Regions from separate parts of the Homo sapiens genome. Here region 1 is linked to region 2. Evidence: fine-mapped QTL for protein levels in blood plasma. A gene starts in region 2. The other region holds a variant in brackets. All regions are shown on one strand. Distances are from middle to middle. Region 1 has its middle 120 kb from the start of MAP2. Region 2 holds the start of MAP2 (microtubule associated protein 2).

Evidence for each region. A credible set is the group of variants that fine-mapping cannot tell apart. PIP is the chance, under the fine-mapping model, that this variant and not a neighbour inherited with it causes the effect. Protein levels are from antibody-based Olink assays in UK Biobank. Linkage for the fine-mapping came from a reference panel and not from the study's own genotypes, which makes the PIPs less certain.
Region 1: its variant is the best candidate, but not a certain one, in a credible set for the plasma level of the MAP2 protein (UK Biobank, PIP 0.79).

What each region holds. Positions count from the first base shown.
Region 1 is chr2:209,294,564-209,311,122 of GRCh38, reverse strand. No RefSeq gene overlaps it. Among named protein-coding and RNA genes, the nearest start is that of MAP2, 120 kb to the left of the region's middle. RefSeq lists enhancers at 4,895-5,893, 5,894-6,893, 10,895-11,554, 11,555-12,214. The variant A/G (reference allele first, on the strand shown) is at 9,045.
Region 2 is chr2:209,409,363-209,424,499 of GRCh38, reverse strand. It overlaps MAP2 (microtubule associated protein 2), which reads right to left and starts at 453. Exons shown (of 16, transcript NM_001375505.1): 1 at 224-453. RefSeq lists a silencer at 383-772.

The sequences.
Region 1 (16,559 bases), 110 kb after region 2:
ATCACTTTACCGACGTTCCTTTTGTTAAAATCACCAGTGAATTAGTTTGCCAATGCTGCCGTAACAAAGTACCATAGACTGGGTGGCTTAAACAACATAAATTTATTTTCTCACGGAGGTTATAAGTCTGAGATCAAGATGCCAGCAGAGTTGACATTTTCTGAAGCCTCTTTTCCTGGCTGTAGGTGGCCATCTTCCTGTCTTCACATGGTCTTTCTTCTATGTGTGTTTGTGCCCTAATTTTCTCTTTCTGTAAGGACACCAGTCAAATTGGATTAGCCTAATGAGAGTGTTTTAACTTAATTGTCCATTTAAAGATCATTATCTCCAAATACAGTCACATTCTGAGATATTGTAAGTTAGGAGTTCAACATCGGAATTTTTTAGAGTGACACGGTTCAGCCCATTACAAGCAGCAACTTTCATTTTATAAGTCAAATATTTATATTGATATGTTTTAATAACCTTTGTTTTTATCTTCTGTGTTACCATATCATCAGACATTTTGAACATCTTCCATTTTATGTTTGATCTCTCATCTTGACTGCTTTCTGAGCAAAACTGCTGCACAGTTGAGAATCTCTTCCTTCTTAAAACACTATCTTCACTTGGTTCAATGAAATACAACAAGCCTTTCTTGATTCTCCTTCCATCCCCTTGACAGCTACTTCTGAGTCTTTGTTGGTAACTTCTCTTGTAATTGACAAATTTTGATTATTGTAAGGACTAAGTAGTAGGCCCTTCTTTTTTTTTTTTCTTTCTATACCAGGAAACCCAAACTCAACAACTTTCAGGTCCTAGGCATGTAGTATAAAAGTATGAAGCAACCAGGAGATTATAGATAAAGTTGTCTGGACCGTGGCATTGAGGAAGTCAAGCTCTGCTTAGAGGTATTGAAAGATGTAAAGTCTCCCAGGCAATCAATAAATATCTGTACTTTTGTTTCAAACTATTAGTCTGTTTTACATTCTCTCCCTAGACAAAGGTCCACCACACACAAGTAATTACTAAGCCCTAATCATCTGCCTCCTAATTTTCTTATTTCTCTCTACTTCTTCCAACCCTCTCTTGCCACTTTAATCTAAGCTGTGATCTTTTTTCTCATGGCTAGCTGAAATTCCCTATTAGCTGATCCTCTCAAACTTGCCCACATTTCCAAGATTCACAGTAATTAATCTTCTCAAAGTCTGAATGAGAACAAATCATATCCTTGTTTAAGATCTCCTGCCAGCTAGACATTAACCTTAAATGAACGAACAAGGTTTCATCATGTCTTATGTGGTTCAAACGGCCCATATATATGTATGTGGGCTCATATATATATATATATATATATGCCATATGTATTTTTTTTTTAACTAATCCACCTTCATCTTTAGCCACTACTCTCCTAGTTATCTTCCTCTTGTGATGGGCTTCTCTCAGTTCTGTGAAGAACCCGAGCTCTTTTTGACCTTAGGGTTTTCCCACATACTATTTCCTTTTCCTGGAACTTTCTCCTAGGAGGTAACATGACCAGTTTCTCATCCTTCAGGTCTAGAAAGAGCTCCCAAAACTGCATTATGGGAATTTTTGAGCTTTATGGAAAGGATTCTTTCTTTCATTCCTGGAATTATGCAAAATAAGATCAATGATCTTCAGTGGCAAAATCATGGACACAATGGATCCTATCTGGCAGTGAGATACTTAACAATGATATCAAATTTCTCTAGAAACTGACACTAGAACTTTCAGCCAGATTAGTCAATGCTCTTGCTTAAGCTAATTTGTATTTACTGTTACTTGTAACCGAAAGAGTCCTGAGTGATATACCTGTTTAAATAACAAACAGCTAATAGGAGCAAACAACTAACCTTTTGCAGAAACCATTTTAATTTTCTTATTTGCAAAAAACATTTAAGCATGGTGTTCCAGAAAGATTATGGACACAGATACTTCTGTAATGTTGAATGCTTGTACAAAATATGTGGCCTTAAGAAAATTGCTAGAACCTACTGGCTTTTAGATTTCTCACTTGAAAAATGGGAATAATGGGAATTATAAAATGTATTTCACATGATTCCCTGGGTATTTACATGAAAGACATGCTAGAAAATCGTAACTTTAGCTCTTTAAGGATGAATTACAAGGAAGAATTATTAGCCCTTGGATTAGTGAGCTTGAGAAAAGCCATACATAGTAAGGAATCTATGTTAGTGAAATCTTAGGCATTATCATATAACTCATATGTGATCTTATTCACCAATGATTTTATTCACCAGCACACACTTAGAGCAAGGTAGTTCATTTGCACTATATTGTTAGTGAAATCTTAGACATTGTCACATAACTGTGAGAAGCATATTATCAAATAAGGGGGCTAACCAAAACTTGTTCATCACCAAATGGTTTGTAGTGTAAAAAACAGTTCTTCACAGCTTCTAGAAACACTACAGCAACCTACATCCTGACTGGTTGAAGGACTGAGGCTTGATAAGGGGAAGTCTCATGGTTTCAGGTTAAAGGCAAAAATGCCCAGTCATCTTATCTAATAGCCTTATCTAATAGTTTAAAGCAAGGTAGCTCACTATGTTTGTAGTAGGGAGCAAGGGAGACACTCAAGATGCAAGAGAGATGGTGGTTATTTGAGAGAGCAAAATGCTAGAGCAGTGTTTTATATAATTATTTAGCTTTGAGACCTGTTGCTCAAATAGATAGAATGTAAGAAGCAGGGGAAGACCAAGTAGCTCCGGGTAAAGAGAGACTTAGAAGCAAGGGCCCAGTCATGAGTATTCAGGAGCACTATTGGAGCCCTTGGAGGGAATAGAAAGGGATGGCAATACTCCTAAGCAAGAAGAAAGAATATTTATTTTCCTGAGACAAGATGAAAGAAAAAGAGGTGTGTGAGAAGACAGAGCAAATTAACAGGTAAGGTTCAATATATTCCCGCTGATACAATTTGGCTCTGTGTCCCCACCCAAATATCATCTCTAATGGTAATCCCCACATGTCAGGGGAGGGGCCTGGTGGGACGTGACTGGATCATGGGGGTGGATTTCCCCCTTGCTGTTCTTATGATAGTGAGTTCTCATGTGATCTGATAATTTGAAAGTGTGTGGCACATCCCCCACCCTCTTGCTCCACCCTTGTTTCCTCTTCACCTTCTGCCATTGACAGCAGTGGGTGAGGGACATCAGCTGCAGTGGGCGAGGCAAGGCCGGGACTGCACACTCTGCAGAGCCAGCAGGAGCTGGGAACTGGCGGGAGCCCTGCCCCCTTCTGCACTCCCAGGGTGCAGCTGCAGCTGTGCAGCTGGGGCTGCAGAACCAGGGCAGCCCTGTGCTCTCAGGGGCCTGGGAAGTCCTCCTTCCTCTGCAGGCTCAGAAATGCCTGCTCCTGCTGCCTGGCCTCTCCCCATTCCTGGTGCCCACTCTGATTTGGGAGCAAAGTTGAAGCTGAGCCCAGGCACTGTTGCAACCCGGCCAGGTGTGTGCATGCTCGGGGCAATGCCAACACAGCAGTCCCCTGTCACCTTGGTCCCCTCTGGACTTTGGGCACCAACGAGCATGGGAGGGAGGCCTAAGGGGGTTGAGGGTGGCTTGGCGTAGCCTTACAGGCACCCTTTAGCACGAGCAGCCTGGGTGCCGTGGATGGCGTGTTGATGGTGGCAGGCAGGCTTCTGGGTGGGAAGGGGTGAGTCCCTGATGAAACCCCACTTCCAAGCCTGGGGGCCAGCCTCCAGTTCTGGGTGGAGTCCCTGGCCTGGAGTGAGAACTTATGGTGCTTTCTCCAGGCCCTCCCAAGGCTATCTATGGACCAATCAGCATGCACTTCCTCCCTTTGGAACCCATGAAAACCCCAGACTCAGCCAGACTTGGACAGACTTGGGACTACCAGCTGTGGGAAGGAGCTACCCACTGCAGTCTCCTCTATGCAGAGAAACTGGACACTTGTCAGGATGACCTGCATGTGGAACTGTAGGTTTCCTGAGAACTGTTCTGCAGCTCAGTGAAGCTCCACTTCACCTTGCTCACCCTCCAGTTGTCCACATACCTAATTTTTTTTCTGGATGCGGGACAAGAACTCAGGACCCACTGAATGGTGGGACTAAAAGAGCTGTAACACAAACAGTACTAAAACATGCCGCCCTACTTGCCATGTTGCAGGTAATGATGTTACCGGGGGTCCTTGCTCCCAGAGCTCCCAAGATGGTGGTAGGCCACTTCCAAGATGGTGGCAAGCCTCGTGTTTTCTGACCTGGGGTTCATTGGCCTCACGGATTCCAAGGAATGGAATCTTAGGCCATGCGGTGAGTGTTATAGCTCTATTAGAAGTCGTGGGTCATGGAAGACAACCGTGGAACCCAGTGACTAGTGTTCAGCTCGATTAGAACGAACCCAGGCACTTAGCCATGCAGGAACAATGGCAAGCCTTTAGCCCGATCAGGAGCGGCAATGGGCGCCTCGCTGGATCAGGAGCACAGCGGACACCCTGCTGGATCCGGAGGGATGGAAGTCAGCGGCCGGTCTCCGACCGCAACAAACCAGCAGTGGTGGATGGCAAGAGAAAGCTCAGTTTGAGCCGTAACAAACACGGACCAGAAGAGTGCAGTTGCAAGATTTAATAGAGTGAAATAGAGTGAAAACAGAGCTCCCATACAAGGGGAGGGGACCCAAAGGGGGTTGCCGTTGCTGGCTTGAATGCCTGGGTTTATATCCCGATCCTTGTCCTTCCCGCTGTGCTCTCAGGCAATAGATGATTGGCTATTTCTTTACCTCCTGTTTTTGCCTAATTAGCATTTTAGTGAGCTCTCCGATTGGTTGGGTGTGAGCTAAGTTGCAAGCCCTGTGTTTAAAGGTGGATGCCGTCACCTTCCCAGCTAGGCTTAGGGATTCTTAGTCGGCCTAGGAAATCCAGCTAGTCCTGTCTCTCAATGGGAAAGAGAGAAGAGCTGCAGTTCTTTCAGGAGCCCAGACCTAGGGGCCCTCTGAGCCAGGGCAGTGACACCCTCTTTGGGGGTCTGCGGTTCCTGGTGTCTCCAAGGGTCCAGGTGCCCCGAGTTCCATGGTGCTCACAGTGAAATCTACTTGTGGTATGCCTGGTCCAGCCACAGCCTCACAAAGAGCCGGCACCCGTGCTGGTGCCTGGAGCTCCCCACCTCTCCGCAGCTGGCATGCCTGGCTGTGGGCAGTGGCCAGATCCCACGCTTGCTCACACACTCCTCACTGCTCTATGCCTGACTCTCCCTTGGCAGGTGTGGGATCCAGGCCAGTGGCACAGCTGAGCACAGCCTGCCAGGCCGAGTGGGTGGAATGAGCCCAGCAGGCCTGAGCAATACTTAGGCAAAGGTGCCACTGGCCACAGAATTTCCAGCTGGAAAAGCAACACCCCAAAGATTCCTTGACACCATGATTTAAGTTTCCTGAAGGCTTCCCGTCGTGCTTCCTGTTAAGCCTGCAGAACTGTGAGTCAACTAAACCTCTTTTCTTCATAAATTTCACAGTCTCAGGTGGTTCTTTACAGCAGCATAAGAATGAACTATTACACCCACTAAGGGTTATGTGAAATAAGGAGCAATCCTTAAACCAGATACTACCATTTGAAAGATGAATTTTAGGTATTTCCTTAGATACTTCACAGAAATATGTTTAGATGTGGGTCTTAGAATATTCTACAAAGGTGTCTGATCTGTAAGAACAGCCTTGAAGCTCTGAGAAATATCCTTTAGAAGGGGCTACATTACGTATGTTTTACATTCATTTTGGAGTCAGAAAGATTTTATTTGAATTCTGATTCAGTTCTTAGAGAATTATATAGCTTTGAGGAGGTTAATTAACATCAAATTGTTCTCACCTATGGAATGTGAATGTATAGTGATGCCTACCTCATGGAGATTTTGTAAGAATTCAGTCAGCCCATGCATGTAAAGAAGACAGTATGTTTCCTGCTGTGATCGTTGGATGCTGATGTTAGCATAATTGGCTTGGTCACAGCTAGAGCAGTACACAGGATTCTTTTTCCCCTTCAAGCTAAAGATTTAAATTTAAATATATTTAATTCAGATGAATAATTAAAAGGAAAGTATTGGCTCTGAAGATGAGAACCAGTTCTTGAAAATTACCCAAGAATTATATATACTTCATGGTACATATTAGCTATTCATCATTTTATGAAATAGTCATTTTTTAAAAACACATGATTGACATATCTTTCATGCGCGTCCGTGTGAAGAGACCACCAAACAGGCTTTGTGTGAGCAATAAAGCTTTTAATCACCTGGTGCAGGCGGGCTGAGTCCGAAAAGAGTCAGCAAAGGGAGATAAGGGTGGGGCCGTTTTATAGGATTTGGGTAGGTAAAGGAAAATTACAGTCAAAGGGGGTTTGTTCTCTGGTGGGCAGGAGTGGGGGTCGCAAGGTGCTCAGTGGGGGAGCTTTTTGAGCCAGGATGAGCCAGGAAAAGGACTTTCACAAGGTAATGTCATCAGTTAAGGCAAGGACCGGCCATTTACACTTCTTTTGTGGTGGAATGTCATCAGTTAAGGTGGGGCAGGGCATATTCACTTCTTTTGTGATTCTTTAGTTACTTCAGGCCATCTGGGCGTATACGTGCAGGTCACAGGGGATGCGACGGCTTGGCTTGGACTCAGAGGCCTGACATTCCTGCCTTCTTATTAAGAAAAATAAAACAAAATAGTGTTGAAGTGTTGGGGCGGCGAAAATTTTTGGGGGGTGGTATGGAGAGAGAGTGGACGATGTTTCTCAGGGCTGCTTCAAGCGGGATTAGGGGTGGTGTGGGAACCTAGAGTGGGACAGATTAAGCTGAAGGCAGATCTTGTGGTAAGGGGTGATATTGTGGGGTTGTTAGAAGAAACATTTGTTGTATAGAATGATTGGTGATGGCCTGGATACGGTTTTGTATGAACTGAAAAACTAAATGGAATAAGGAGAAAAACAGGTATAAAAAGTCTAAGAATTGGGAGGACCTAGGACATCTGATTAGAGAGTGCCTAAGGAGATTCAGCATAGTCCTGCCACCAAAGATTATTTAGTTACTTCAAGAGTTAAGAGTGGCAGTTTGGGGATAGCACGAGGAGATATCAGCTGTGATGGCTTGGATAAACAGTGTAAACTGGCAGTGTAAACAAGAGCAGGGCATGTATGAGTAGTTGAGAACAGAGAATAGGAGTATGACTAGACAGAAAATAGTAGGGATGACAAGTTTTTTTTGGGGGCACAGTCTAAGTTGGTCTGGTGTCTGGAATGAGACTGGGGCCTAATAAAAAGGAGCATCTATACAGGAGCTTAAATGGGCTGTACCTTGTAGCATTCCAAGGACAGGCCTGAATTCTGAGAAGGGAAAGTGATAAAAGTATTGTCCAGTCCTTTTTGGTGGCTGAGCTTGGTGAGGTGAGTTTTTAAAAGACCTTCAGTCCATTCTACCTTTCTTGAAGATGGAGGACCGTAAGGGATATAAAGGTTTCACTGAATACTAAGAGCCTGAAAAACTGCTTGGCTGATTTGACTAATAAAGGCTTATCTGTTATCAGACTGTATTGAGGTGGGAAGGCTAAACTGAGGAATTATGTCTGACAGAATGGAAGAAATGACTGCGGAGGCCTTCTCAGACCCTGTAGGAAAGGCCTTTACTTATTCAGTGAAAGTGTCTATTTAGCCTAAGAGGTATTTTAGTTTCCTGACCCGGGCATGTTGAGTAAAGCTAATTTGCCAGTCCTGGGTAGGGGCAAATCTTCGAGCTTGATGTGTAGGGAAGGGAGGGGGCCTGAATAATCCTTGAGGAGTAGTAGAATAGCAGATGGAACACTGAGAAGTTATTTCCTTGAGGATAGATTTCCACGATGGAAAGGAAATGAGAGGTTCTGGGAGGCGGGCTAGTGGCTTGTACTATAGCATAGCCTGCCTTTGCTGGTATGTGGCGATTAGGCCTGGTGGAACTGCCATCAATAAATCAAGCGTGATCAGGGTGAGGAACAGGAAAGAAGGAAATATGGGGAAATGGGGTGAATGTCAGGTGGATCAGAGAGATACAGTCGTGGGGGTCAGGTGTGGTATCAGGAATAATGTGGGAGGCCAGCTTGAAGTCCGGGCCAGGAACGATGGTAATTGTGGGACTTAACAAAGAGTGAGTACAGCTGAAGGAGCCAGGAGCAGAAAGTATATGCGTCAGGTATGAGGAAGAAAATAGATTTTGGAAGTTATGAGAAATGTAGAGAGTGAGTTGAGCATAGTTTGCAATTTTGAGGGCCTCTAAAAGTATTAAAGCAGCGGCAGCCGCTGCTTGCAGACATGAGGGCTAGGCTAAAACAGTAAGGTCAAGTTGTTTGGACAGAAAGGCTACAGGGTGCGGTCCTGGCTCTTGTGTAAGAATTCTGACCACACTAACCATGCCTAGGAAGGAAAGGAGTTGTTGTTTTGTAAGGGATTGAGGTTTGGGAGATTAATCGGACACGATCAGCAGGGAAAGCACGTGTGTTTTGAGAATTATGCCGAGATAGGTAACAATTGAGGAAGAAATTTGGGCTTGATTGAAGTAACGGGGGCTGTCTGTGAGCTTTGTGGCAGTACAGCCTAGGTAATTTGCTGAGCTTGATGGGTGTCAGGGTCAGTCCAAGAGAAAGCAAAGAGAGGCTGGGATTAAGGGTGCAAAGGAATAGTAAAGAAAGCATGTTTGAGATCCAGAACAGAATAATGGATTGTGGAGGGAGGTATTGAGGATAGGAGAGTATATGGGTTTGGCACCATAGCAAAACAATTTGGTTGCTAAGGCGCAGATCCTGAACTAACTTGTAAGGCTTGTCTGGTTTTAGGACAGGTAAAACGGGGGAATTGTAAGGAGAGTTTATAGGCTTTAAAAGGCCATGCTGTAGCAGGCGAGTGATAACAGGCTTTAATCTTTTTAAAGTGTGCTGTGGGATGGGATATTGTTGAGTGGGGTAAGGGTGATTAGGTTTTAATGAGATGGGAAGGGGTGCATGATTGGTCGCCAAGGAGGGAGTAGAGGTATCTTATACTTGTGGGTTAAGGTTGGGGGGATACAAGAGGAGGAC[A/G]CAAAGGAGGCTTTGGATTGGGAAGGAAGGCAGCAATGAGATGTAGCTATAATCCAGGAATAGTCAGGGAAGCAGATAATTTAGTTAAAGTGTCTCAGCCTAATAAGGGAACTGGGCAGGTGGGGATAACTAAAAAGGAGCGCTTTAAAGAGTATTGTCTAAGTTGGCACCAGAGTTGGGGAGTTTTAAGAGGTTTAGAAGCCTGGCCGTCAATACCCACAACAGTTATGGAGGCAAGGGAAACAGGCCCTTGAAAAGAAGGTAATGTGAAATGAGTAGCCTCCGTATTGATTAAGAAGGGGACAGGCTTACCTTCCACTGTGAGAGTTACCCAAAGCTTGCCGTCCATGATGGTCTAGGGCGCTTCCGAGGTGATCGGGCAGTGTCAGTCTTCAGCCGGTAAGCCAAGAAGGAGTCAGTCAGAGAGCCTTGGGCCAGAGTTCCAGCAGCTCTGGGAGTGGCTGCCAGGTGAGTTGAATAGTCCGATTTTCAGTGGGGTCCCACACAGATGGGACGCGGCTTAGGAGGAATCCCGGGCTGCGGGCATTCCTTGGCCCAGTGGCCAGATTTCCGGCATGTGTAGCAAGTTCCTGGGGGAGGAGGTTCTGGAGGAACACTTGGCTGCTGCGGTTCAGGCATTTGGAAGTCTTGTGTGCTGGAGATGTAGCTGGGGTTTGTCTCACAGTGGAGGCAAGGAATTGCAACTTTTTTCTGTTATTGCACACCTTGAAGGTGAGGTTAATTAAGTCCTGTTGTGGGGTTTGAGGGCCAGATTTCAGTTTTTGGAGTTTTATTTAATGTCGGGAGCAGATTGGGTAATAAAATGTATATTGAGAATAAGACGGCCTTTTGACCTTTTAGGGTCTAGGGCTGTAAAGTGTCTCAGGGTTGCTGCCAAACAAGTCATGAACTGGGCTGGATTTTTATATTTGATGAAAAAGACCCTAAACGCCATCTGATTTGGGATAAAGAAAAAGGAGCATTAACCTTGACTATGCCTTTAGCTCCAGCCACCTTTTTAAGAGTAAATTGCTGGTCAGGAGGGGGAGGCCTAGTCACGGAACGAAACTGTAAGCCGGAGCAGGTGTGAGGAGGGGAGGCGATTAAAAGATTATAGGGTGGAGGAGCGGAGGCTGAGGAAGAATTGGGACCTAGCTCGGCCTGTTGAGGAGGGGAGAGGTCAGATGGGTCTGTAGAAAAGGAAGATTAGAAAGACTCAATGACACTTGGGGTTGGTACTGAAGGGACAGGCGGGAGGGAAAGAAGGAAGATTTGGGACGAGTTGCACTGGGCACAGAGACTAGGAAGGGACTGATGTGTAAAAGAATGCCTGGACGTCAGGCACCTCAGACCATTTGCCCATTTTACGACAAGAATTATTTAGATCTTGTAGGATGGAAAAATTGAAAGTGCCGTTTTCTGGCTATTTGGAACTACTGTTGAGTTTGTATTGGGGTCAAGTGGCATTGCAGAAGAAAATAAGATGCTTAGATTTTAGGTCAGGTGAGAATTGAAGAGGTTTTAAGTTCTTAAGAATACAGGCTAAGGGAGAAGAAAGAGGAATGGAAGGTGGAAGCCTGCCCATAGTGAAGGAGGCAAGCCCAGAGAAAAGAGTAGAGACACGGAGAAGGGGTGGGGGTTTCTTCCCCTCCAGAAAAGCAGAGAAAGGGTTGGGACATGGAAATAAGGGATTGTGGCACAGAGATAAGAGGTTGGGGTGCGGAAATAAGCGATTGGGGGGTTCTTGCCCCCTAGGAAAGCGGGACTTGCCACTAAGGGTGAAGGAGAAGGGGTTGAGGGGTACTTGCCCCTGTCCCAGGAAAGCGGGACTTGCCGCTAAGGGTGAAGGACCAAGGCAGGCATCCCTGCATGGTCTGACACCCTTGAAACGTGAGTGTATAATCAGAGAGGCGTCCCTGCAATGATTAAACACCAAGGGAAGGCTGCCTTCCCAGTCCGTGACCGGTGCCGGAGTTTTGGGTTCATGGATAAAACATGTCCCTTTTGTCTCTACCAGAAAATGAAAGGAATTGAAATTAAGAGAAGGGAGAGACTGAAGTGTGGCACCAAGACTGAAAGGAGAAAGAGGTTGAGGGATAGTGAGGGAGGTTGGAGAAGAGAGTAAAAAGAGGCCACTTACCGGATTTGAAATTGGTGAGATGTTTCTTGAGCTGATCGGTCCGAGGACCTGAGGTCGTAGGTGGATCTTTCTCACGGAGCAAAGAGCAGGAGGACAGGGGATTGATCTCCCAAGGGAGGTCCCCCGATCCGAGTCACGGCACCAAATTTTATGCGCGTCCGTGTGAAGAGACCACCAAACAGGCTTTGTGTGAGCAATAAAGCTTTTAATCACCTGCGTGCAGGTGGGCTGAGTCCGAAAAGAGTCAGTGAAGGGAGATAAGGGTGGGGCTGTTTTATAGGATTTGGGTAGGTAAAGGAAAATTACAGTCAAAGGGGGTTTGTTCTCTGGCGGGTAGGAGTGGGGGTTGCAAGTTGCTCAGTGGGCAGGAGTGGGGGTCGCAAGGTGCTCAGTGGGGGAGCTTTTTGAGCCAGGATGAGCCAGGAAAAGGACTTTCACAAGGTAATGTCATCAGTTAAGGCAAGGACTGGCCATTTACACTTCTTTTGTGGTGGAATGTCATCAGTTAAGGTGGGGCAGGGCATATTCACTTCTTTTGTGATTCTTTAGTTACTTCAGGCCATCTGGGCGTATATGTGCAGGTCACAGGGGATGCGATGGCTTGGCTTGGGCTCAGAGGACTGACAATATCCTCCTCCCTTAAAAAAGAAACTAGCAAACATTTTCAGAGAATATTTTGCATAATGTAGGAAATCTAGTTAGCCCTGAGTTCGGTATACTTCTAAACGCTTTAGTTCTGAAGATGTACTTTACAGAACATATCATAAAATTCTTCCTGTGCTTATCTCCTCTTAGTAGTATGAAGAAAAGGGAAACAGTGGCACCCTAAAGTTGTGGAGAATTCTTAGCAGAATATTTCTATGATCACATGCCCTTGGAAAAGAAGTTAAAACCCAGTATTGAATATATCCAAGGTTAGGCATTGAGTGTGGAATTTTTTAAATAGGGAGGCCACACTAGAAGGATAATATGATTTCCCATGTTACAGAAAGTGGTTGAGTCATTAGTTCTTCTCTGCCTGGTTGTTAAGAATAAAGGAGGTTTAAAAGGCAAGCACCTACTTTTGCTGTAGCAACCTCAGGGCGTAGGAGCATTCAGAAAGCCTGCTTCTGGTAGGCATGACTGCAGTGGGAGCCATGTCAAGTAATGGAGTGAGGACCGAACACTCTCCAGGAGTAGGAGCTACTGTGGTGTAAAACCTTCTTATGCACAGTATAGTAAGGCTAAGTAAGGCCCATATGTGGTCCCCTAAAACAGCCTGTCAGAATCCAAGAAGTATCAGAAAAATCACAAATATCTGCAGCCATGTTCATTCTTACAGCTAAAGCAGTACACAGGATTTGATGTTAATTAACCTGCCCAAAATTTGATGTTAATTAACCTGCCCAAAGCTATATAATGCCCTTTTCTGGGGGGTGAAAATAGGGGAAAAGATCATTGGTGCCACATCTATAAGTTCCTTGTCCACAGAACGCCAGGCATTTCGTCCTCCTGTTTTCCTTTCTCTTTAAAAAACTGCTAGGTGTTTTTTAAACCAAGCTGAGGGTAGGAATTACTTGAATGAGGTAGTCTAGAGACTACTCTATATAATGTTTTGTTCAGCATAGTCAATAGATCTGAACCAGGAATTCTGAGTCATGGTCAAAGCTTGGAGTTCAGAAAATAAATTCTTATCTTTTGTCAGGAATATTTTCTAGAACCCCTGAGCTTCCAGTGAGATCATAGTTCCAAAGAACATACTAAATAAGAAAAATAGAAACATAAGATACAAAGCAGTGAAAACACCAAAGCCCATATTTATTTATTGAGCAGGAAACGTATCGTTCTAGAGTTGTCATTGTGTTACCTTTTACAAGCTTAATGTAATAATTTGACATACATGAAGTGTTTTTACTGAGATCCATTCATTATCCTTCCATTCTAGATGAGAAGGAAAGAAAAGTAAAAGAACTAAATTTCAAACTCACTGAAGTCTCTCTTAATTACAAAAGAAAGATTACATGAAAGCCAGGAGTATTTTTTTTTTTTCATTTTTGTCAAAGATGTGGTTACTGGATTGTTTGAACAGAGTATTACAAGATATTAAACCAAGTGAAATTCTGCCCATAGTGCACAAGCACTACAGGTTTTTGTTTGTTTGTTTGTTTTTGAGACAGAGTCTCACTCTGTTGCCCAGGCTGGGGTGCAGTGGCACCATCTTGGCTCACTGCAACCTCCACCTCCCAGGTTCAAGTGATTCTCCTGCCTCAGTCTCCCAAATAGCTGAGACTACAGGCATGTGCCACCACACCTGGAATTTTTTTCTTTCTTTCTTTTTTTTTTTTTTTTTTTTTGTATTTTTCTAGTAGAGACGGAGTTTCACCATGTGGGCCAGGCTGATCTCGAACTCCTGACCTCGGGTGATCCACCTGCTTCAGCCTCCCAAAGTGCTGGGATTACAGGTGTGAGCCATTGTCCCTGACCACTACAGGGTTTTTGTTGTTGTTGTTGTTTTGCTTGTTTGCTTGTTTTGCAATAAAGACACATTGAAAGTTGACATCAGATAAAAAGTATTTTTCAAAGTCATATTAGTTTGATGGGGATTCCTCTGCCATTCCTTCATCAGCATGTGCTATCCTGTTATTAAGAACCTCAACTTTAGTTTTGTAGAATTTATATTCATTGTATTCTTGTCCTAGATGATATGACTTCTGTCCAAATAAGAACTCTTATCTTTACTCAATTATCTAGACTATCTCAAAAGAATCAAGAGGTTTTTCCTTTTTAATGAGACCATTGAAGAAGTCAAGCCTTTGACATGCCTCCCACACGAATATATGTGTGTGTGTGTGTGTGTGTATGTATGTATGTTTTTCTCTCTAGTAATTTGATACTTTCATAAAAATTTTGAAAGACATTGAAAGATATTTCAAAATTCTATATATTTTACTGGGTTAACTGTTCATTTTCTAATTAGTAGAAAATCTTTAGTTTTAGCATACAGATTTAATTAAGAACCCATTAGGTCATTCATATTTAAATAGACTTGTTCCAATAACCCACATCTACTTTTTTTTTCCACTTACAGATTATGTTAATCAATTCTTTCATCTGATTGCCCCCTAAAAGGGAAAACAATTTTTTTACATGTTCAACCATATGGAGAGATTTTGAAAAGGATCTATATCTATTGATGGTTTTAAACTCATATTTTTGGCTGAAGTGAATAAAAAGAAACTAAAATGTTAATATAAATGTTTATCTTATAGTCATAACAAGTCCTTGAAAGATTCATTTGTTCTTTTCTTTCTGCCTTCTGTAGAACCAAAAAAGAAAAAAAAAACTAATACCTTTTCTTTACTCATCACAAGGTTCATGGCAGAAGCAGCTATAATGAAAATAGATGAACAAGAGAAAAACCTACAAATGTATTTAATGTAAATTTTACATGATACTGCAGCTTTCAGAAAAGGAGACCCTCCAAAATAGGGAAACCTGTGTATATTATGCTGAATTTGATGAATGGATAGTTGTGGAGAAAAATGATTAGAGGACAAAGGGTGTGATCTAATGGTAATAAACTAGGCAGAGGGGGAACTTAGCAAGGCATGTTTGCTCAGGTTCTTCTCAGCTTCTCTGTGTCTTTGATGATAAGGATATTTTATTTCCTTTGGGGAAAGGAAGAAGAACTCTGAAGTAAAGGCTTTACGGCCTGCTTTAGAGGAAGTTCAGAGAATTCTTTTATGGCTTGCTTCAGGAGAGAAGGGCAGGGTAAGGTGAGAGTGACGTTTCTGCTTCTGCTGCTTCCTCAAATGCCAAGGTGCCATACTTTGAGGTAGTGAGTCCTGAACCCTGTCACTTCATTATAGCCATGTTAATGTATTTTTATTTTATTCATTCATTAAAATGAATCTGATTTTACCTTCCTGACTTCTTTCAGTAACACATAAAACATATATAGTGAAGATGTTTCCAGGGATGTGGGTAGGGTTTGAGGAGAAAAGCTCAAGAAGCTTAGTGGATACAAAAGGGAAAGAAAGGAACAACTTTATTTTATTTTTTATTTTCATAAGTTTTTGGGGAACAGGTGGTATTTTGTTATGGAAGTTCTTTAGTGGTGATTTTGAGGCTTTGGTTCACCCAGCACCTGAGCAGTATACACTGAACCTAATTTATAGTCTTTTATCCCTCAACCCCATCCCACCTTTTCCCCCTGAGTCCCCAGTCCATTGTATCATTCTTATGCCTTTGAATCCTCATAGCTTAGCTCCCACTTATGAGTGAGAACCTATGATGTTTGGTTTTCCATTCCTGAGTTATTTCACTCAGCATAATAGTCTCCAAACCCATCCAGGTTTCTGCAAATGCCATTAATTCATTCATGTTTATGACTGAGTAGTATTCCGTGGTATATATATGGGGTATACATATATCACAGTTTCTTTATCCACTTGTTGATTGATGGACATTTGGGCTGGTTCCACATTTTTGCAATTGCGAATTGTGCTCCTGTAAACATGCATGTGCAAGTATCTTTTTCGTATAATGACCTCTTTTCCTCTGGATAGATACCCGGTAGTGGGATTGCTGGATCAAATAGTAGATCTACTTTTAGTTCTTTAAGTAATCTCCATAATTTTTCCGTGATGGTTGTACTGGTTTACATTCCCACCAGCAGTGTAGAAGTGTTCCCTTTTCACCACATCCACACCAACGTCTATTATTTTTTTGATTATGGCCATTCTTAGAGGGGTAAGTTGGTATCTCATTGTGGTTTTGATTTGCATTTCCCTGATCATTAGTGACGTTGAGGATTTTTTCATATGTTTGTTGGCTGTTTGTATATCTTCTTTTGAGAATTTTCTATTAATGCCCTTAGCCCACTATTTGATGGGATTGTATTTTTCTTGCTCATTTGTTTGAGTTTCTTGTAGATTCTGGGTATTAGTCCAGAAAGAAACAACTTTAAACAGTGCTGTGGTTTGACCGTCCCCTCCAAAACTCATGTTGAAATTTTATCTTAAATGTGGCCATATTGAGAGGTGGGGGCTTTAAGAGGTATTTACAACATGAGGTCTCTGTCCTTAAGAGTGGATTAATCCACTCATAGACCAATGTATTAATGGATCAATGGATTATTACAACAAGGGAATTTGTTGCTTTCTAGGAAGAGGAAGAGAGACCTGAGCTAGCATGCTAACATGCTCAGCCCCCTTGTCATGTGATGCCCTGTGCTGCCTCAGGAGTCTGCAGAGAGTCCCTACCAGCAAAAAGACTCTCACCAAATGTGGTCACTAGATCTTGGACTTCTCAGCCTCCATAAATTCCTTTTCTATATAAATTATCCAGTTTCAGGTATTCTGTTATAAGCAACAGAAAACAGACTAAGACAAGTA
Region 2 (15,137 bases):
ACCAGTAGCGTCCGGCCCCCTGCTCCGCAGTGACACCTGGAGAGGACAGGCCCGAATCTTCCGCCAGGTGCACGGCTGGCCACTCGACCAACTACCAGACTGCCTGCTGCGAGTCCCAGAGGACGAGACACAACCCCTCCCCATTCCTATCTCTTTCTACTCAGAGACCGAGGCAAAAGGAGAGGCGCCCTACATAGAGCCAGAGGTGGGGACGGTCTCTTACCTGGGCGCAGAAACTGGATGCACCCGCGGTCGCGACTGCCACCGCTCACGGACTTAGCGCCCTCCGGAGAAAAAGGAGAGGGGTAGAAGGGTTAGGGGAAGAAGGGGAGGGGGGGGAAAAAGAAGGAGAAGGAAGAGAAAGAAGCGGAAGGGAAGTAAAGGAAGAGAGGATGCTGCTGCTGCTGCTGCTGCTGCCCAGAGCCCGCGCAGCCCGAGCGCCCGCCCCAGACTGAGAGCGGCGCCCCCAGCCGGCTCCCAGCGCAGCAGCTCCGCCTCGGCCCCTCCTCCCCGCCCCGCGCAGGTCCCGCCCCGCGCAGGTCCCGCCAGACTCCGCGAGCCCGTGGGCGGCCGCGGCGGGGCTGGCGCTGCCACCGCCGCAGTGTCCGGGAGGGGGAGCACGACCGCTTCGCCTTCTGCCGCAGCCGCCGGCCGCCAGGCGGGGACCGCGAGGTGGGAGCCTCGGAGAGCCCCGCCCAGCCGCTGGCCCGGGCCTTCTCCAGAGCCCTGGTCCCCTCCCGCGACAAAGTGAGGCCAGTGCCCGGGCGGCGGGACAGGCGGGCCTTCCTCACTGGCGTCCTTGGAAAATCGGGGGCAACAGCTTTAGTCTCTCGGGAGCAACCTCCGCAGACCCCCTGCTTCCCTCCCCTGTGTCGCTATGAGGCGGGGTTGCCAGTGGCACCTCACCAGGAAAGCTCACTGGCCTCGCCTCACAAACCCAACCACAGGTGCATCCAGAAAAGACAAAGGAATGTGGGGCGCTTGAGAACATAGAACAACTCTTGTCAGCACTAAAGGAGCAATGGCTGAGGGAGTAGAGAATTCTAGACCCAGCTCTGTCACGAATTAGATTCATTCATTTATTGAGTCAACGAATGTTTATTGACACCTACTATGTGTCAGGCACTCTTCTAAGCATTAGAAACATCAGTGACAGACCTTTCCCACAACCCTAATAAGAAAGATCCCCTCCCTTTATAGTTATTACATTCTAGATAGCCAGACGTATGCTCTAGAGACAGTTCACTTAATCTAACTCTCAGTGTATTCATGTGTCATATGAGAACTAAAAATGACAGCCCAATTCTCTTATGCTTAAAAAGATAATGAATATGAAGGATCTTTGAAGAATGATACAAATACAATGAATTAGAAAGCACGGAAAGTGTTGACCTTGAAATATCACCCTTAAAAAAATTGCCTCTTAAATGCTTTTGAAAGTGAAATGACCACCTGAGAAAACAAATGATTCTTTACCATTCGTACTAAGGAGTATGAATCTTCATAATCAGAGAGCAGCATTTTATTGTAAGTAAGAAAAGTAAGATGCAACTTAGAATTACTTCGAGTGTCTATATCAAGTACTGACAAGGTGTTTTTAAGGTCAGCCAACATACTGAGGTGTGGCTTGTACAGTCTTCACAGTGCTGATGAAACAGCAGCCATAATGTGGTTCTGTCACTTAAATTAACCACAGAATCTTAGAACCTAGAACATTAGAGTTGATGTTTTAGGCAGCTGGTCTAATTTCCTCCATTTTCAGATGGAAAGAGACCCAATGGTGGGAGCCTGCAAGGATTAGAAACCATCACAGAGGAAGCTGTGAAAGCCTGCCCTCCCCAGTCACACCCAGTGCTCTGTGTCCTGCCTCCCCCGCTCTGCTTCATACCATGTGCCAGTGACGCTTGCAGTGAGTTTGGAAGTATCAAGGCACACCCAGGAGCTGGGAGGTTGGAGGAGTTGATGCTCCTCCTCGGAAGATGGCCTTACTGAGAAGGAGGTCTTAGGAGACTAGGAAATCATAGACAGTATGTGGATGGGAGGAAGGAGTAGGCATGCTACCAGAGTGTTAGCAGCTGACATTCATGACCAGGCATGCAGGCGCAGGTGCTCAATGAGAGTAATTTTCCAGGGCCAGGAGCGGTGGCTCACACCTGTAATCCCAGCAGCTCAGGAGGGAGTATCGCTTGAAGCCAGAAGTTTGAGGGTGCAGTGAGTTATGATTACACCACTGCACTCCAGCCTGGGTGACAGAGTGAGACCCTGTCTCTAAAAAACAGCAATAAAAAAGACATTATTTCTCTGATAGTTTAAAGTACAGTGTTCCTCAGCACTTTTTGTTTTTGTTTGTTTGTTTGTTTGTTTGTTTTTTCCTCCACTTTAAGATTAGCTGAGGCAGCCAAACTCTAATGGCTTTTCTCTTTGGGGAACCTGGTCCTTATATGGGAGATTGCCTCCTCTCGACACACATCTTAGAGTTCTTTCAGAAAAATAGCATCTATATGTTGTAATTCAATAGAGAGAATTTAATATGGGGAACAAATTACAAAGGATTCAAATGACTAAAAAGCCAACTAGGGGATGATGAGGCAACACGATGATAGTTACTAGCAGGAAAGTACTACCACTCTCAGGCTGGGGAGTGCTAGAGAGGAGGCTTTACCAGGAATGAGGAGCACAAGCTACATTAAAGGAACTGAGACCACAGTGGAGATGCTTACTGGGAGACAGATAATGCTGGAGGGTCCTCCAAAAGCTGAGAGTGAAAAGAAATATTGTGGCCCTCCTTTAACCTGTATTTCAAAACCCTGTCATTGGGTGAACCTAGAAGAAAGTCAGTTGACAAAGCAGCCTAAGAAATACAGTTTGCAGGAGTCAGTGCCCTGGGATGTCAAACAACTTTAGGAGGGGACTCCATATGTTTAGGCTTCTGGTTTAAGGAGGGATCTTTGTGTTGAAGTGAACTTTTTTTTTTCCCTCAGCAAAGCATCCCTTCCTTAGAGTAATGATCCTTTTCATATGATTCCCCATATGCTAGTAAAATGTGTGCCTCTCTTCTCTTTCTCAGAGGTGGACATGTGACCCTGGCTAACTCTATAGTAGAACCTGTTCTCCTAATGTATAGTGATTGATACAGGGTGGTCATATGTCCCAAATATTTCCAATCAGGCTTTTTTCCATGAGATGTGTCATATGAACAATAGTGAATCGGATGGTATAGGTATAGAGTTGTCAGTGACTGTATTTCCTTCCATGCAGAAAAGCAATGCTGAGAGATGGAGAAAGAACACTTGAAAGACTCCATGGATCCTGCTACGTCTCAAGGTAGAAATGCCATTTTTCAAGCCAATAGATTTTTGTTTCTTTTCTAAGCTTGCTGTAGTTGGATTCCTGTCATTTTCAACTGAAGAAGCCTTGACTAATACAGTGCTGGACTCCAAAAAGTAAACCACAGATAGAAAGAGCCTGCCAATATTGATTTCCACAATTACTTGTCTTGTCTTCAGGCTAAATTCTTGATTTGTATTTATTTGGCCCGGAGGATTACGTACATAAACAACCATACCCTTTTCTCAGGGACAGGACTTCTGATAGTTTCTCAGTCAGAAAACCATCAGAATAAATGTATTTCTACTGATTAGAGAAAGGTCTACTGGTATATAGGAAGTAATGAAACCTTCTCCCCAGAGAGTCAAGGAGTAGGTGAGCCTTTGAGGAGGTTGTACTGCATAGTGTTAAGAGCACCAGACTTCAAGTCAGATCTGAGGGCCCATATTTGCTGTTCCCTGCTTGTGTGACCTTGGGTACATCTCTCTACCATTTTGAACCTCAATATTTTTATTAGCAAATGAGGAGACTCAACCACATGCCACCTAAGGTCACTTTAGTTTTATAAAGCTATGAGAAATTATAGCTCAGCTGAGGATTTGCTTATTAAGTTGATGAACATTAATTAAGTGGCCCCTAGAGAAACAATGAGCAAGGTTCATACATACACAAACAATGCTGATACAATGTGCAGCCCATCATAGAAAAGATGTGGATGCAAGATGCAGGTATGACACTGAAGAGCAGACACACATAAGTCTTTTACCTTCTATGTGTGAAATGGGCTTTTTGTGTTTTGTTTTTAATTTCTTGACCTTTTCTCTATGGATGACTAGAGGCACATCTATCAAAATTTCTATCATGTTTCACAAGTTTTGACCATTGCAATGGCTTTAAAATTTAAAAATGAGCTTTGTAGTATGGTCTCCCATTTCCAATTCTATGCCTAGTTCATTGAACAGGTGGTGAAATTACCATTGACTTCTTCTGGACCATAAATGTATCATTCTGTTCAAAAATTTTGTTGAGGTATAATTTACATTCAGTTAAAAGCACAGATCAGAAATGTTCAATCTACACCTTCAGCCCCAACCCATAGAGGTAACTACACTTTTGATTATGTTTCTCTGTGGCTTCACTTTGCATATTCTTGGAATTCCTATAAAAGGATTCAGACAATATATATTATTCTACATCTGGCTTCTTTTGCACACATATTACTTTTGAGATGTATTCTTTATTTTGTAAGTTATCTGCAGTTTATTCCTTTTTATTGTTCAGTAGTATTTTATTGTATGGATATACCATATTTTGTATATCCATTTTCTAATTAGTGGACATTTGGGGTTATTTTCAGTTTCTGCTTGTTAGTAATAAGGTTGTTATGAACTTTTATATAAGATTTTTTGTGGATATGTTGTTGTTTCTTTTAGTCATATACCCAAGAGCGAAATTTCTGGGTCGAATGGTAGATATATGCTTGACATTTTTTTTTTTTTTTTTTTTGAGACGGAGTCTCGCTCTGTCGCCCAGGCCGGACTGCGGACTGCAGTGGCTCAATCTCGGCTCACTGCAAGCTCCGCTTCCCGGGTTCACGCCATTCTCCTGCCTCAGCCTCCCGAGTAGCTGGGACTACAGGCGCCCGCCACCGCGCCCGGCTAATTTTTTGTATTTTTAGTAGAGACGGGGTTTCACCTTGTTAGCCAGGATGGTCTCTATCTCCTGACCTCATGATCCACCCGCCTCGGCCTCCCAAAGTGCTGGGATTACAATGCTTAACATTTTAAGAAACTATTGAAGTATAAGTTTTCAGTACTGCTGAGTAGACTTTTACTAGACCTTACCATCCCCCAGATAACATCTCCTGTAGGGGTGAAACAACCAAAACCAGAAAGCACTGGAATGTAAACAAAACAGGCATATTTTAAAGGGGAATCAACGCTTGGAAGAAGGAATGGCACATTCAATGCCTTTTAACTTGAGAGAAGATTGCACACAGTATTGCCAGGGGCAAACAGTCATAGAAAAATTACAGTTTTCCTGAAATAGAGTATAGAGTTTGGGACAATGTCCTGAGATGGAAAGTGAAAATAGAAGACTGAAAAGAAGAGACACTGGAATAGTCCAAATTTCTAGGTATAATCTACGCACAAATCTCCACTTTATCCCTGAATCATGTGTATATGGAACAGATTCAATGCTTCCCAGTTAAAGATTAAAACAAACAAAAACAATAACCAAATACTGAGCTGAGGTTTGAGTTGCTACCCGAGTGACAAATGTTGCAATGTGAATCTAACCAAATTAAATGAGTAGTAAAACAAAAACTTCAACACTGGAGTGATATAATGAAATCCAGAGTCTTCACAACTTAACATCCAGGATACCACCGAAAGCTATTCAACATTCAAAGAACCAGGAAAATGTGGCCCAGTTTCAAGAAAAAAAGACAATCAACAGAAATTAATTTTTAGATGACCCAGATGTTGGAATTAATAGAAAAGTGTTAAAATCAGCTACTATAAATATACTCAATTAAGTAAAGGAAATATAAGTGAAAAAAATAGAGAATTTCAGTAGAAAAACTAAAATTATTGAGAAGAACCAAATTTCCTTGATGACCAATGATGCCAATATGTCTCTGTGTTCTTGTTGGTTATTCTTGCATCAGATTTTGTGTTGTGAAGTGTCTGTTCTAATATTTTGCTAATTTTTAATTGGGTTGTGTATCTTCCAATATACAAGGAATATATAAGGAATATATTTTGATAATATTTTCCTCCAATTTTTTGTTTGCATTTCATTTTCTAAATGTCATCTTTTGGAAGTGCGAACTCCTTTAATTTTGATAAAGCCCTATTTCCTCAATCAAATTTTCTTTTTATGCTTTGTGTTTTTTTTGGTCATATCTAAGAAATCTTTCATTTACTCCAGAGCTACTTTTTTTCTGTTCTCTTCTAGAAATTTGATAGTTTTAATTTCTATGATCTATTTCAAATTAGTAGATATGATATAAGGTATTACTGATTATTTTTTTCCGTATAGATATCAGTTGTTCCAGAATTATTTTGTGAAAAGACCATCCTTTCTTCATTGAATGACCATAACATCTTTGTCAGAAATCAATTGGTCATATATATATAGGTCTGTTCCTGAACTCTGCCATGTCATTGATTCTTATGACAATTTCACATTATTTTGATTACTCTAGCTTTATGGTAAATCTTATAATCAGACATGGCAAGTAATACAATCTTATTCTTCTTTTACAAATTTCTTTTGGCTCTTGTAGTCTTTTGCATTTCCATACAAATATTGATGTCAACTTGTCAATTTAAGTAAAAATTATGTTTTCTTTGGAATTTTCTCAGGTCTGTAGATCAATTTTGGCAGAATTGCTGTCTTAAAAATATTGAGTCTTCCAATCAATGAACATGGTATAGATCTCTATTTAATTAGATTTTTTGAAGTTTTTGAAAAATATATACATTATTAATAAGCTTTATTTCTTAAAGCAGTTTTACATTTAAAGAAAAACAGAACAGAAAGTACAGAGAGTTTCCATGCATTTCCTTTCCCCTGCCCATGGTTTCTCCTACTATTTGCATCTTGCATGGGTGACGTACCTTTGTTAAAATTGAGGAACCAATATTGAGGCATTATTATTAATTAAAGCTCACAATTTATATTATGGTTCACTCTTGGTATTGTACAGTTTTGTGGGTATTGCCAGATATATAGTGTCATGTGCCCATCATTGTGGTATTATACAAGATATTTTCACTGCCTTAAAAAATACACTGTACTCCATTTATTCCTCCCTACAGTCTTTCAATACCCCACAAATGTTATATAGTTGAAATTATGTGGTATATAGCTTTTCTTCTTTCATTTAACAGTAAATATTTAAGATTCCTCATACCCTTTCATGGCTTGATAGCTCATTTTATCACTAAATGTTATTCCATTGTATAAATGTCCCATAGTTTGTTTATCCATTCAGCTATTGAAGTACATTTTATTTGCTTCTAATTTTGGCAAGCACAAAGTTGCTGTAAACATTCATGTTCAGGTTTTTGTGCTGACATAAGTTTTCAACCCATTTGGGTAAATACCTGAAGCACAATTTCTGGATTGTAGGGTAGATTATGTTTAGCTTTGTAAGAAACTGCCAAACTGTCTTCCAAAGTGGCTGCACCTTTCCTCTGGTGATGAATTAAAATTCCTTTTGTTTCATGTCCTCAAGAGCATTTGCTGTTGTCAGTGTTTGAATTTTACCTGTTCTAGTAGGCATTAGTGGTATCTCGTTGTTTGAATTTGCAGTTTCCTAGTAACATATAATTTTGAGCATCACCTTATATGCTTATTTGCTGCCTGTATATGTTCCTTGGTATAGTAGTTATTCAAATATTTTACCCATTTTTTAAATTACATATTTTCTTATTGTTGAGTTTCAAGAGTTTCTTTATATTTTGTATTCAAGTCCTTTATCGAATATGTGTTTCACAAATGTTTTCTCCAAATCTGTGGCTTACCTTTTCATCTTCTTAATAGTGATATTCACAGAGAAGAGCTTTTTAATCTTAATGAAGTCCAATTTATTAATTTGTTTTTCATAGATTGTCTTTTAGTTTTGTATCTAAAAACTCATTACCAAGTACAAGGTCACAAGGATTTTCTCTTATGTTATCTATTAAAGTTTAATTGCTTTGTGTTTTACATTTAGGCCTATAATTAATTTTGAGTTAATTTTTGTGGAAGAGGTAAGATTAGCATCTAGATTCATTTTTTTGCTTTCACATGTCCAATTGTTTAAGCATCATTTGTTGAAAAAATTATCTTCTCTCCATTGTATTGCCTTTCTTTCTTTGTCAAAGATCAATTTACTATATTTGTGCAGGTCTATTTCTGCATTTTCTATTCTGTTCTATTGGTCTATTTGTCTGTTTTGGTTTGTTTGTTTTTGCCAGTACTGCACTGTCTTCATTACTATAGTTTTATAGTAAATATTAATATTGGATAGTGTCAGTCCTCTAACTTGTTCTTCTACTTACACATTGTGTTGGACATTCTGGTTCTCTTTTCCATATCACTGTAGGATAAGTTTGTAGATATCCACAAAGTAACTTGCTGAGATTTTGATTGAGATTGCATTTAATTTACATATCAAGTTGAGAAGAACTGAGATATTGACAATATTGAGCCTTCCCACATTCATTTATTTAGATCTTTGATTTCTTTCATCAGGGTTTTATAGTTATTCTCATATATATCTTGTACATAATTTGTTAATTTAAACCTAAATATTTCAGCTTTTTGGTGTTAATGTAAATGGTATTATGTTTTTAATTTTTAATTTCAATTGCCCATTGCTGGTGTATAATAATGCGATTGATTTTTGTATATTCACCTTGTTACCTGCAATCTTGCTATTATCTCTTAATAGTTCCAGAAGTTTTATTGTTGTTTGTTCATTCTTTGGAATTTTCTACATAGACGAACATGTTACCTGCAAATAAGGATAATTTTTTTCTACCTTTCTAATCTGTGAGTTTTAATTTACTTTTCTTGTCTTATTGCATTAGCTAGGACTTTTATTAAGATGTTAATAGGAGAGATGAGAAGGATATCCCTACCTTGTTTCCAGTCTTAGGGGGAAGTATCTAGTTTCTCTCTGTTAAATATAATGCTAGATGTAGGTTACTTGTAGTTGTTCTTTATCAGGTAGTGAAAATGTCTTTTTATTCCTAGTTTTCTAATGATAAAAATGAATGGAGGCTTGATTTTCTCAAATATTTTTCTACACTTATTGATGTGATCATATGATTTTAACTTTTTGACCTCTAGACCCTGCTTTTGCTGCATTCCACAAGTTTGATAGGTTATATTTTCATTTTATTTAGTTCAAAATATTACTTAATTTCTTCTCATACTTCTACTTTGGCTTATATATTAGGATAAATCATTGAGTTAGGTTTTCTCCTCATAATATAAGCATTAAAATGATACATTTTTCTGTAGGCACTGCATTATCTACATTTCCCAAATTTTGATATGCTGTGTTTTCATTATAATTTACTTCAAAATTTATTATTATTCCTTTGTGATTATTTAATTTGAATATACATGTACATTTGAAATACGCTAACTGTGATGGTTAATTTATGTGTCAACCTGACTGGGGTAAGGGATGCCCAGAATGCTAGAAAAAACATTTCTAATGTTTTTGATGTTTTAAATGTCTGTAAGAATATTTCCAAAAGAGACTACCATTTGAATTGATGAATTGAGTAAAGAAGATCACCTTCACCAAGGTGGATGGTCATTATCTAATACATTAAGGACCCGAATACACAAAAAGGTAGAGAAAGCACAAATTCACTTTCTCTTCTTCAGCAGGGACATTCACCTTGTTCTGCCTTCAAAGATACATGTTCTGGGACTTAAATCAGTGCCCCCTTTTGTGGTTCTTAAGCCTTTGTGCTCAACTGGAAATTACACCATCAGCTTTCCTGGTTTTCAGACCTTCAGACTGGGACTAAATTACAACACTTGCTTTCCTTGTTCTCCAGCTTGCAGATGACAGACCATGGGATTTTTTGGCCTCTGTGATCATATGAGCCAATTCCCATAATAAATAAATAAAATTTTATATATTTGTTTAGATTATATATTGGTTTAGAATATATATTCTATAATTTAAATTTAAATTATAAATTAAATTAAATTATAAATTTATATTATAATTATATATTTATATTATAAATTAAATATAAATTATAAATATATTTATTAAATTAAATTAAAATTTAAATTATAAATTTAATTCAATTGTAGCAGAAAGCATATTTCATATGATTTTTATTCTCTTATATGTATTGAGGCTTGTTTTATGGCCATAGGGTCTATCTTGACTAATATTCTATGTGATCCTAAAAATGTATATCAAAAGTTGACTTAAAATGGGTGAGATACCCAAATATAAGAGATAAAGTTTTAAAACTAGGAAAAAACATAGAAGAAAATATTTGTGATTCAAATTAGGCAAAAACTTCTTTGGTATGTCACCTAAAGGATTATCAAAAATGGAAAAAAATAGATATCTTTAATATTAAAAGCTTTTGCTCTCGAAAAGATTCCGTTCAGAAAAAAATTGGCAAGCCAAAAACTGGGAGTAAATACTTCCAAATCATTATGTCCTATAAAAGACTTGTATCCAGAAATTATAAAGAACTCTCAAACTTAATAATAAAGAGATAAACATCACATCCTACCCTTGCAAAAGGCAAAATATTTGAATAGACACTTTACCACAGAAGATATAGTAAAGGCTGTTAAGAACAAAAAAGGTGTTAATATCAGTAACCATTAGGAAAATGCAAATTCAAACCACAATGACATACCACAACATACACAATAGAAAGGCTACAAAAAAAAAAAAAAAGAGAGAGAGAGAGAGACAATATCAAGTACTGATATGGGTGGGAAGAAAACTGGAATTCTCATACATCACTGGTAAGAGTGTAAGATTGTACACCCACATCTTAGTCTGTTTTGTGCTACTGTAACAGAATTTCTGAGACTGGGTAATTTATAAAGAAGAAAGATTTATTGCTTACAGTTCCGGAGTCTGAGAAGTCCCAAGTGGAGAGGCTTGCATCTGGTGAGGGCCTTCCTGACACATCATTCTCTACCAGAAAGCAGAAGGGCAATATCACACATAGGGGTTGGGGTGGAGGGTGAGGTGCTGAACTCTTTTTTCATCAGGAACCCACCCTCTTGATAATTAACCCACTCCTGCAATAACAGCATTAATTCATTCATGAGGGCAAAACCTTCATGAGCTAATGACCTCTTAAAGGTCCGACCTCTCTGCACTGTTGCATTGGAGATTAAGTTCCCAACACATGAACTTAAGGGGCCATACTCAAGACATAGCGATCTACTCTAGGAAGCAGTTAGTAAGCTTCTTAAAAATTTAAACATGCACTTGCCATATGACCTAAGTATTCTACTCCCAGCCATCTACCCAAAATAAATGAAAACATATGTCTACATCAAGTTGTTCATCTCAATGTTCATAGCAGCACAATTCGTAATAGCTGAAAATAGGAATTTATCAAAATGCCCATGAAGTAGTGAATGAATAAATAATTTGTGATATATTTCTACACTAGAATAATGCACACAATTTAAGGGACAGAATACTGATACATGCAACAAGTGGGATAAAATTCCAAGAGATTTTACTAAGTTAGAGAAATCAGATGCAAAAGACTACTTACTACATGAATTCATTCGTATGAAATTTAAAGAGGCTAAACTGTTGAAACAAAATGGATATCACTGGTTGCCTGAGGCCTAAGAGTGTGAGCAACAATTCACTATAAGCCTCATAAGAGAACTTATTGTGGTCATCCTAGTGTTCTAAGACCATATTATTGTTATGGGGGCACAATCACCTAAACCTAGTAAAATGCGTCAAACTATACACTAACAATAGGTGAATTTTATGGTGTGTAAATTATATCCCAATAAATCTGTAAAGAAACAATATGTACCTACTGCTGTTGAGTGTTTAAAACTGCCAGTTGTATAAATTTGCTTAATATTGTTTGTATCAATATTCTTACATATTTTCTTTTTATTCCAGCCCAACCCCTGTGCTTTATTCCATTTATAAGTGGAGGCAAGAGTGTTGAAATATCCGACCAAAATTGTAGATTTGTCATTTTTCTTTTCCATTCTATTAGATTTTCCATCATGCATTTTGAACCTCCAAAATAATATATATATGCAAGTAGGATTTTCTGTCTTCTTGCTGAATTGTTCCCTGTAAAATGGTTACTATCCCTCCTTTCCAGGTAATATTGCTTTTCTGAAGTTTACTTTGTGTAATATTAATAAAATAATTTCAGATTTCTTTTGGTTAAGATTGACATAGCTTATCTTTTTCATGTTTTACTTTTTAAATTTTGTTATAATTCAGATATCACAAAATTCACTCTTATAAAGAGTACAATCCAGTGAGGTTTAGCATATTTACAGTGGTACAACCATTGCCACGAATTTCCACATTTTTATCACCACAAAATGAAACTCTACAACCATTAGCAGTCCACTTTCCATTCTTCCTTCTCCTCAGTCTCTATGGATTGGCTTATTTTGGACATGTCATATCAATGGAAGCATACACCATGCAGCGCTTTATGACTGACTTCTTTTACTTGGCATAATATTTTCAAGGCGCATTCATGTTGTAGCAAGCATAAGTACTTCATTCCTTTTTTATGACTCAGTCGTGTTCTTTTGCATGGCCATAACACTTCTGTTTATCTGTTGATAAAGAGTTGATGCACATTTGGGTGGTTTCCACTTTTGGGCTATTGTGAATTGTGCTGCTAAGCACAGTACTATACAAGTAGTTTTATGGACATTCTCAATTCTTTTGTGTGTATACCTAGGCATGATATTGCTGGGTTATATTTTAATTATATTTTTAACAATTTGAGTAATTGCTAAAACTTTTCCCAAAACAGATACACCATTTTACATTTCCATAAGCAATGCATGAAGGTGTCAATTTCTCCACATTCTCATCAACACTTGTTATTGTCTTGTTTGATCATAGCTATTCTAGTAAGTGGGAAGTGGTATATTATTGTGATTTGGGTTTGTATATTCCTAATGACTAATAATGACTAATAATGTTGAGCATGTCTTCATGTGCTTATTGGCCACTTATATATTTTATGTGAAAAATTGTCTATCCTTTGCCTATTTAAAAAATTAGATTATCTATAGTTTTATCGTTAGTGTTCTTTACACATTTTGGATACTAATCCTTTATCAGACATATGATTTGCAAATATTTTCTCTGATTCTATGAATTCCCTTTTTCACTTTCTTGATTCTCTCCGTTATAACAAAAGTTTTCAATTTTTATAAAGTCCAATTAATTCATTTTTTTCTTTGATTGCTTGTACTTTTGATGTTATTTCTAAAATAATATTGCTTAATTTAAGGTCATGAAGATGTATACCTTTTTTCTTCTAGGAGTTTTATAGTTTGTACATTTAGGTGCTTGGTCCGTTTTGAGTTACTTTTTATAAGATATGAGATACGAGTCCAACTTCATCTTTTGCATGTGGATAACCAGTTGTCCCACCAACATTTGTTGAAGACGACTCTTTCCCCTATTGATTTGTCATGGCATACTCTTTAAAATCAGTTGACCAAAACTGTGAGGGTTTATTTCTGGACTCTCATTTCTATTCCATTGAGCTATGTGTCTATTTTTATAGGAGCAGCACACTGTTTTAATTACTGTAATTTTGGAGCAACTTTTAGAATTAGGAAGTGTGAGTCCTCCAACTTTGTTCTTTTTCTAGGCTATTCTGGCCACTTTAAGTTCCTTGCATTTCCATATGAATTCTAGGATCAGCTAGTCAATTTCTGTGACAATAACACAAAAAGGAAGTTGCAACTTTGATAAAGATTGCATTGAATCTATAGATCGGTTTGGGGGCATTGCTATTTTAACAATTAAATCTTCTAATCCATAAACACATGGTGTCTTTCCATTTATTTAGGTTTTTATTAATTTTTTCCATGTTTTCAGTATACAAATCTTATACTTCTTTATGCTTCTTTTGTTAAATTTATTCCTAAGTATTTTATTCTTTTTGATGCTATAGTAAAAGGATCAGTTTTCTTAATTTTATTTCTGGATTGTTTTTTGATAATTTATAGAAATTATCAACTTGATTGATCTTGTATTCTGCAAACTGGCTGAACTCATTTATAAGCTTCGATAGGTTTTTAAAAATACTTAGTATTTTCTACATTCAAAATCATGTCAGCAACTGGATATAAGTTTACTTCTTCCTATTTAATATGGAAGTCTTTATTATTTTATTTCTTGCCTAATTGCCCTGACTACAAATTTTCAGTACAATGTTGAATAGAAGCAGTGAGAGCGTACATACTTTTCTTGTTCCTGATCTTAAAAGTAAATACTTCAGTTATTCATCAGTAAGAATGATGTTAGCTGTGGGTTTTTCAAGAATATTCCTTATCAGTTGAGGAAGCTTCCTTCTATCCTGGTTTGTTAAGCATTTTTATCATAAAAGGGTGTTGAATTTTGATGCAGAAAATGCCTTTTCTGCATCAATTGAGATGATTATATGGCTTCTGTCCTTATTTTATTAAATTAGTTTATTATAATTGATTGATCCTCATATTGAACCAACTTTGCATTCCTGATGATTAATAAAACTTAGTTATCTGTTATTGGATTTGGATTGTTTGTTGAGGATTTTAATTTTATATTTATATTTCTAGTTTTATTAATTTTGAAATACAAAGTTTCTCTCTTGGAAAATTTAAAAATTTTTAAATTTTAAATTGATAAGTAAAATGTATATATTTTTGGTGTATAACATAATATTCTGATATACATATACATTGTAGAATGGCTAAATCAAGCTGATTAATATATGCACTATCTCACATACTTACTATTTTTTGGTATTGAAAACAGCTATATGTACTGTTGTAGCAATTTTCTAGTACACAGTACATCGTTATCAAACAATTTTTATCATCAATTTTGCCAATATCTGCCTTTTGTTTGAAGTGTTTAATCCATTTACATGTATTATAATTACTGGTAAGGTAGGGTCTATATCTACATGGTGCTATTTTTTTCTATATATCACGTTTTTTTGTTACTCTATTGTTCTGTTACTGACTTCTTTTTTGTTAAGTAGATATTTTATAGTTTACTATTTCTTTTTAGTTTGTTTGTT